Linked DNA regions of Homo sapiens. The protein of the gene in region 2 interacts with the protein of the main gene of each other region in a pairwise test. Each region holds a gene or a part of one and is shown on either strand. Other genes may lie near its edges. The genes, in order: F2RL1 and SLC39A13.

Region 1 (3,701 bases), on a different chromosome or scaffold from region 2:
CCGTTGGTAGGGAATTAATTAAATACATCACAATATACCCAAAATGTTAAATAGCCTGTATCCTTGAAAAGCGGTCAACCTACAGATGCAGGTATAGAAAGAATTCTAAAACTTTTTTTTTTTTTTTGAGACGGAGTTTCGCTCCTGTTGCCCAGGCTGGAGTGCAATGGCGCAATCTCGGCTCACCGTAACCTCCACCTCCCGGGTTCACGCGATTCTCCTGCCTCAGCCTCCCGAGTAGCTGGGATTACAGGCGTCTGCCACCACGCCCAGCTAATTTTCGTATTTTTAATAGAGACAGGCTCTTGCCATGTTGGCCAGGCTGGTCTTGAACTCCTGACCTCGGGTGATCCACCCACCTTGGCCTCCCAAAGTGCTGGGATTACACACGTGTGCCACTGTGCCCGGCCTCTGAAACATTTTTAAATGAAAAACCGTTGTCACAGAGTTTGGTGTGAGTGTCCACTTTTAGAGGGGTGAAGCTGTTGCCTGCCTTCTCTCACTCCTTCCCTCAAAACAAACGCACAACTCAGAAATAAGTTGTAAAAAAAATTTTGTTATTTATAAATCAATTACACAATAAAATAATTATTTTTAAAAGTCACAAATACAATCGTTGTATAAAGTCATTTTGGCATCAAGTATCTCTTAAATATGTTGCAAACTATTTTCCAAAGAGATGTGGTCCAAACCCTCTGAAGGCTTTATAATTTTGTATTAGATAACAAGTGAACAAAACTGACAATAAATACTCCAACAATTATTTTTTAAAATACTAAGTGGCAAATGCTATTCTAAGTGGCAAAACAATCTATTACTCAGACTACCTGAAAATTTCACTGAAGTCATCAAAAGTTATACAAAATTTGTATTTACATGTTTAAAATCCTGATTGCATTTTTCTTTAATAATAATACATACAAAAACTCAGAGGGTTAATAAAGAAATAATTCAAAGTCCTAATAAGTCAACAAACAGATTTCATTATAAGCTGAACATAAAAGAGACACCATTGTTTGCTTCTCTTTTCAAAAATTATCACGGCACTTTGTCAAATGGAAGCAGCATTCAGAACAATGGTTCTCAAATCTCTGTGTGCATAAACACCATGCAGGTTTGTACCACACAGATTCCTGGGCCCTGTTCCCAGTCTGAGCTCTCATTATTGAATCTGAGGAATCTGCATTTTGAACAAGATTCACGACTATTTTATTTTATTTTATCACCCAAGCTGGAGTGCAGTGGTGCAATCTCGGCTCACTGCAACCTCTGCCTCCTGAGTTAAAGTGATACTCAATTCTTGTGCCTCAGCCTCCTGAGTAACTGGGATTACAAACGTGCACCACACACCTGGTTAACTTTTGTATTTTTAGTAGAGATGAGGTTTCGCCATGATGGCCAGGCTGGTCTCGAACTCCTGACCTCAAGTGATTGCCTGCCTCAGCCTCCCAAAGTGCTAGGATTACAGGCATGAGGCACCGCACCCAGCCAAGATCCATGATTTTGATGAAGTGGTACAAGAACCTCACTCACTGGACATTGAAATTCTACTGTCCAATCCCAACTCACTGCTGTTGATTGGAAACCTGATTCTGGCAGCTCATTTATCTTGGTTTCCTCATTTGTAAGGTCGTTCAGTTGGACTGATCATCTCTGAGGGCCTTGAAGCCCTAACAAGTCTATCATGATCCCAGATGTAAAATATATATATGTGTATATATATAATTTCAGCTGAGAAGTGAGTCTTCACACCAAGTCTACTTTTTGCAAGTTACTGGGTTTCTGTCTTCACCATCTTCTGAAAAGTCTGCTTCTGTTGGTTCAGTTTCTGGGGTCATCTGAGTAGAGAGATTCTGAAACAGACACTGATGTTAATTTGGGGGACTACTTTTCTCATGCAAACAGGGGAGCTCCTAGCAATCCTGAGAGGTGCTGCATCCACATGGTATGTGGTGAGACCTTTTTGATTAGGAAATAACAGACACGTCCTCATAACATTAAACAGGTTCCACATCCTACTGTGCAATTCCCATCTGAGGACCTGGAAAACTCAATAGGAGGTCTTAACAGTGGTTGAACTTGAAGAGTAAGAGCTGGATTTCCTGGAGTGTTTCTTTGAGGTGAGGGATACTTGCATCTGCTTTACAGTGCGGACACTTCGGCAAAGGAGAGCGTTCTTTGCATGATCCCTGAAATCATGTGAAACAAAGTAATAGACAAAGGGGTCGATGCAGCTGTTAAGGGTAGAGAGGCAGAGGGCTACAATGTACAGGGCATAGACATGGCTCTGGCCCTGGCTCTTAATCAGAAAATAATGCACCACAAGCAGAAGGTTACTAGGAGTGAAGCAGATCAGGTACATGGCCAGGACAGTGACAATGAGTTTGATGGCCCTCTTCCTTTTCTTCTCTGAGTTTTCATCCATGGCAGAAGATCGCAGCATTCTGATCATCAGCACATAGGCAGAGGCTGTGAGGAAGGCTGGGAACAGAAAGACCCCAATGGCCAGAGAGAGGAAGTAATTGAACATGTCTCCCACCAAGAGCTGCTCAGGCAAAACATCATGACAGGTCGTGATGTTCAGGGCAGGAATGAAGATGGTCTGCTTCACGACATACAAAGGAATGGTGACCAGCAGAATCAGCAGCCATATTGCCAGGGAGATGCCAATGGCAATGTTTGCCTTCTTCCTGGAGTGCCCCATGGGGTTCACGATGACCCAATACCTCTGCACACTGAGGCAGGTCATGAAGAGAATGGAACAGTACATGTTGCCATAGAAAAAGCCAATAAGCACATTACAAAGAGCTTCCCCATAAATCCAGTTGTTGCCATGTATGTGATAGGCAATCTTCAAGGGGAACCAGATGACAGAGAGGAGGTCAGCCAAGGCCAGATTGGCCATGTAAATCACAGCAGGGTGCTTCTTCTTAGTTCGGAAAAGAAAGACCCACAGGGCCATGCCGTTACTTGGCAAACCCACCACAAACACAATTGTGTAGACAATTGGAAGGAAGACAGTGGTCAGTTTTCCAGTGAGGACAGATGCAGAAAACTCATCCACAGAAAAGACTGTTTCAACTGTAACTCCTTTTCCAGTGACGTGGGATGTGCCATCAACCTTACCAATAAGGCTTCTTCCTTTAGAGGATCTACTGGTTCCTGTACAAGAAAGGAAGACAAGGGTCATTACAGAAATAAATGTTTCAGCAGTAACACTGGTTTGTTCAAATGAAAGTACATTCATTTATTCATTTTTTAATTTATGAGACAGGGTCTCGCTGTCACCCAGGCTGGAGCGTAGTGGAGCGATCATAATGCACCGCAGCCTCAAACTTTTGGGCTCAAGCAATCCTCCTAAACAGCCAGGCCACAGGCACACACCATCACACCCAGCTAATTTTTTACTTTTTGTAGAGATAGGATCTCACTATGTTGCCCAGGCTGTTCTCAAACTCCTGGCCTTAAGATTCTCCTGCCTCAGCCTCCCAAAGTGGTGAGATACAAGTGTGAGCCACTGAGCCCAGCCTCAAATGAAAGTACTTTAGATGAAAACAGAAATGTACTATTAGAGGATTACACAAAATGCTTATAGGGGCTTTTCTTTGTGTAATGAGATTATTGGGATTTCTATTGTCTGGTTTAGTTTGGTTTTATGGGTTTTTTTCTTACAGTGAGTATTTTTGTATCGGGGAGTTGTA
Region 2 (4,395 bases):
CTGACCTCAGGTGATCTGCCCACCTCAGCCTCCCAAACTGCTGAGATTACAGCTGTGAGCCTTTTATGGGCTCTTATGGGAATTAAATGACAATATGTACAGCAAGTGCTCATTACGTGGGAATTTTTCTCTTCTCAGCTGCTGTCACTCTCAGAAAAGTGGCAGAGATTTGGGGACTTGCAGCATCCAGGGTTGGAAGTCGCCTGCCTGAAAGCCATGTCCAACCCTTTGGCTTGATAGAGAAACTGAGGCCTAGAGGACAGAGGCAGCTGGGTTTGGGGTGGGATCCCAGGGGAAACTGCTATTTCCTGGCTGGGTGACCTTGGACTGGTCAAAGAACCTCTCTGTGCCTGTGCATCCCCACTTGTAAAATGGAACTAATAATCCAGGTGCTCCCTGCACTGACCCCGCAGGGCTGCTCTGAGGGTTGAGCACAGGCCTGACCATGGCCCAAGCAGGGCTCTATTCACAGCTGTGGCACCGCCCTCAGCCCAGTGCCTGGCACAGAGCTGCTGGGTAACCATCTGGTAAGTGAATGGTTCCTGAGCATCCAGCTGGCAGCACCAGCCCCTGGGATGCTCGTTTCTAACAGATTCCCAGGGCCTTGGTCCACCCCTCTTAGGTGGGGGATAGGCACGTGCATTCTTAGCAGCTCCCTAGAGCTCTCCTGCGTGTTTTGTTACAACATGTTATTTGTGAACGGGCAGTACATGCTCATGGTACAAAAGGGTAGTCAGGACAAAGCTCCCACCCGTGCCCACATCCCCATCTCCTAGACCCCCTCCCCAGGGGCAGGCCCTGCTACCAGGTGCTCATAGCTTCCTGGGGAAGCCAGAGCCAGCCGCCCCTGGCTAGATAGCTCCTACAGGACCAAGGGGAGAAGTTCTATTCTATCCTCTCCCTCCATCTCAGACACTCTGTGACCTGGGGTCTCCTAAGAAGAGCAGCAGCATGCTTCCCACACCCTGGCCAGCCCTGGGCGCCACCGGAGAGTCACCTACCTTCTGAGCGCAGCATGGTCCCCATCTCTAGGGGAATGACAAGCAACGGGAAGACCCCACTGAGCCCCACCATGAGGGAACCCAGGAGGGAGCAGATCCAGGTGTCCAGCCGCTCTCCGCTCAGCAGAGCCCCCCAGGACTCGCTTTCCTTGTTGTCCAGGCGACAGGCCGTCGCAGTCCCCCGGCTCCGGAGGGCCGGCTGGGAACCCCCAGCCCTTTCCAAGAGCTCCAGGGCAAGGGCAGTGAGGAAGAGGAGCCTTGGGCCCGCCATGCCACAGCCAGGGCAGGGACATCCAGGCATGCCACGTACTGAAAAACACAAAAGGCCACCTATATGAGCTACAGCCTTGGCCGCACACCTGCTTAGGAAACGTGGCGCCTCCCTCCTCCCCGCAAGGGACCCTGGCATCCACCCTCCTGCTGTCCTTGCCAGAGCGTCTGAGCATCCAAATGCTGGGTGCACAGCAATGGGGCCCTGTGTCTCCACACCCTACTCCTGAGCACTGCGTATTTTTTCCTTCTGAGCAGCTCCAGACTGTGTCAGCACCTCCGCCTGAGGCTAAACTTTCCCTAATGACAGGGTGAGGCGCTGGCTGGCTCTCCTCAGCCACCGGCGGCACGGCCCGGCCCAGCTGGGTGTCTCTGGCTGCCAGGGGAGGCCCTGCCGCCCGCGACACCCCAGAGACTGAGGCACCCCTTCTAAGGGGATGGGGTGGATTCAGAGAGACATACGTGGGGAAACTGAGCAGATGAGCCAGGGCAAGACCATCCACGCTTCTTCCTAGGACATGAGACCAATGTCCCCAGGGCACTGAGGGCAACAGGAGATGGGGCTGATGAGGAAGGAGCCTTTAGCCAGGGGATGCCTCTCTCTTGTATAGCGCAGGCTTTAGAGCCCCCACGGTGAATTCTATGCTGCACTTTGAGCTGTCTAACTCTGGGCAAATCTCTGAAGCCCCCCCTCTGAGCCTCAGTGCCCTCATCTGCAGGACAGGGATCAATATCACCTGCCTCAGCTGTGAGGACGAGATAAGCCTGAAAGTGCAGGTGGATGTACCCGGCATGAGGAGGCGCAGAGGCCCTGCCTGTGCCAGGGAAGGCCTGGGGCTCCCTGCAGCAGGAATGTGCCCAGCCGGCCGATCACAGGATGTGGACGTGAGTCAACCAAGCGAGAAGTTCCATCTGGAAACTCGGGCATGAGGTTTAAATGTGGTCTGCTCTGCCTCAGGCTGGCTGTGACCTTGAGCTGGTGATGTCCCTGCCTCAGTTTCCTCACCTTCTGATGGAGATGGGAGGGGAAGAAAGCAGCTGCCTCTGGGTGGTGGCAGAGATGCCCATGTCTAGGACCTCCAGGCCTTAACTAATCAGGGGCACTGATGAAGCCAGCGGGGCTCCACTGGGGACCACAGGCAAGACTGGGCCAGGACGAGGCGGTCACGCAGAGGTGAGGGGACCACAGGCTAGCGGGAGGGAATACACGGAGAGTCCAAGGGGAGAGGAAAGTAGAGAGTGAGAGAGCTAGAGAGAGGCGGGTGGGACGCGGAGAGGACAGCGAGGGAGGGATGGGGCGTGGGGCGCGGAGCGATGGGGGAGAGGAGGCCGAAGCGGGCGAGCCTGACTCCCGGGTCCTGGGAGCCGGCCCAGGTCTGATGAGGACCAGTCGGACGGGGCGAGGGATCGGCCGGGTCCATCACGCCCGGGGCGCGGGCCCCGAGGGTCCTGCTGGCACTCACCGTGCGGCGGCGGCGGCGGCGATCCGGGCGGCCCCAGCCATCCAGCTGCGGTGCCGCGCCCCGCCCAGGCTCTGCCCCGCCCGGCCGCCCGGCCGCCCGGCCCCCGGCCCGGGGCCGCCCCCGGCGCGCGGCCACGTCACAAGGGGCCTGTCCGGAACCCGAGGCGCCGCGTGCCGCGGGGTCGGGGGGAGTGGCGGCGGGAGGGCGCTTCCGCCTCGCGGCGGTGGGGGACCCGGGTAGAGGGCGCACTTCCGTTTGGGCAGGGCTGCGGGCCGGAGGGGAGGGTCGGTCGGAAGTGAGAGAGCCACACGCACCGCGCTCAGCCAGGCTGGGCAGGGACGGAAGCGGCGGCTCTGCGGGGACCGCGATCGACCAGGCTGCGGGGCTTGCGGATCTGGCCGCCGCTTCCCGTCCAGGGCCGCAGTCTGCCCGTGGCCGCACGGGGGCGCGCCCGGCCGCCAGACCACGCCGCCCAGGTCGGGCTGGGAGGACTACTGTGCGCTCCTGCTCTGAGTCAGCCCGGCCTGGCTCCTCCATGAGCAAGGGAAAGGGGAAGTGCCTGCCGCAGGGAGGGGCCTGGCCCCGGGAACCTCAGAAGAGGGAATTTTATTCTTACTCATCGAATTATTTTTATGCTTTGGTTTTTCACTGGGAACCTCAGGCCACTGTCTCCAGGGCTTGTAACCCTTTGGGGTCCAATGCATGGTGGCTGGACCCTGCTGATGGGAACTCCAAACCTGGGAGGCGAGGGCTCTGTGCTTCCCTCACCTGGAGGAAGCTAGACCTGACCTCTTTGGTTAGACTAAGGCAGCAAACACTGGATAGCAGTTCTTATAACCGCAATTTACTGACCACCTACTATGTGCTATTCACTTTACTCGCACTATCTCACTGAATCCTCATATTATCCCATTGTGGTGGGTACTGTTAGCCCAGGGTCACACAGTGGCACAGATGGCAGAGCCAGGATTCAAACCTGGGTGTCCTGAAGCCAGAGTATGTGATACCACTTCTCACGTCTAGGTCCTGAACAGCAGTGGGAGTCTGGCTTGGCGTTTCGAGTTTGTATTCTTCTCTGGAAATCAGCCAGTACAGGAGAAGATTCAGGAAGGGGCATGTGGGTACTCACTTGGGCAGAGATAGCGACTGAGTACAGGTCTCTTAAGTCTCTGACCCTCATCAGCCTCCCATGGCAGCTCCAACCATTTACTCTGTCACTTTCCCCTCTGCTGGGGCTCTTGAGAGCACACTCAGCTCTCAGGGCTGCCTCTGGTGCCTGTCCCACTTCATGTTGCACTGTTGGCCTTCCTTAGACCGCCAACTTCTCCCTGGTGGCCCAGCTTGTCTTCTGAAGCTTTCTGTCCATCTCACCCCACCGGGCCCATACAACTGCCAGGACGTTCTGTTCCCTCCCTGAGTTCCAAAATGGAATCCCTGGGTTAGTTTCTTGGCAAAGAAAAGCTACTCAGGGATCCTGCCCTAGGACTTCTAAAATGCCCCCCTCCCTGTATGCAAAAGCGCTCCATCTTATGCAAAGCACTTCACAATATGCAAATGATTTCACAATAACACAGTCAGCATTCCTGCCTCTGGAGGCTGAGCGCTCCTGGCCACCCAACAAGGGGATGGGCAAGACCCAGCCAGAAACGTTACTTGGTGCC

The links.
Region 1: the proteins of SLC39A13 (region 2) and F2RL1 interact in a two-hybrid assay, tested with the Homo sapiens proteins (one large-scale study listed by BioGRID and IntAct).

Annotation. Positions count from the first base shown.
Region 1 is NC_000005.10:76,832,151-76,835,851, reverse strand, and holds the end of F2RL1 (proteinase-activated receptor 2 preproprotein), read right to left. Parts: intron 3,163-3,701; coding exon 2,051-3,162; 3' UTR 537-2,050; downstream 1-536. UniProt on the Homo sapiens protein: Receptor for trypsin and trypsin-like enzymes coupled to G proteins.
Region 2 is NC_000011.10:47,407,002-47,411,396, reverse strand, and holds the start of SLC39A13 (zinc transporter ZIP13 isoform a precursor), read right to left. Parts: upstream 2,808-4,395; 5' UTR 2,735-2,807; intron 2,446-2,734; exon of another isoform or gene 2,115-2,445; intron 1,813-2,114; exon of another isoform or gene 1,771-1,812; coding exon of another isoform or gene 1,734-1,770; intron 1,332-1,733; exon of another isoform or gene 1,311-1,331; coding exon of another isoform or gene 1,303-1,310; coding exon 1,002-1,302; intron 1-1,001. UniProt on the Homo sapiens protein: Functions as a zinc transporter transporting Zn(2+) from the Golgi apparatus to the cytosol and thus influences the zinc level at least in areas of the cytosol. May regulate beige adipocyte differentiation.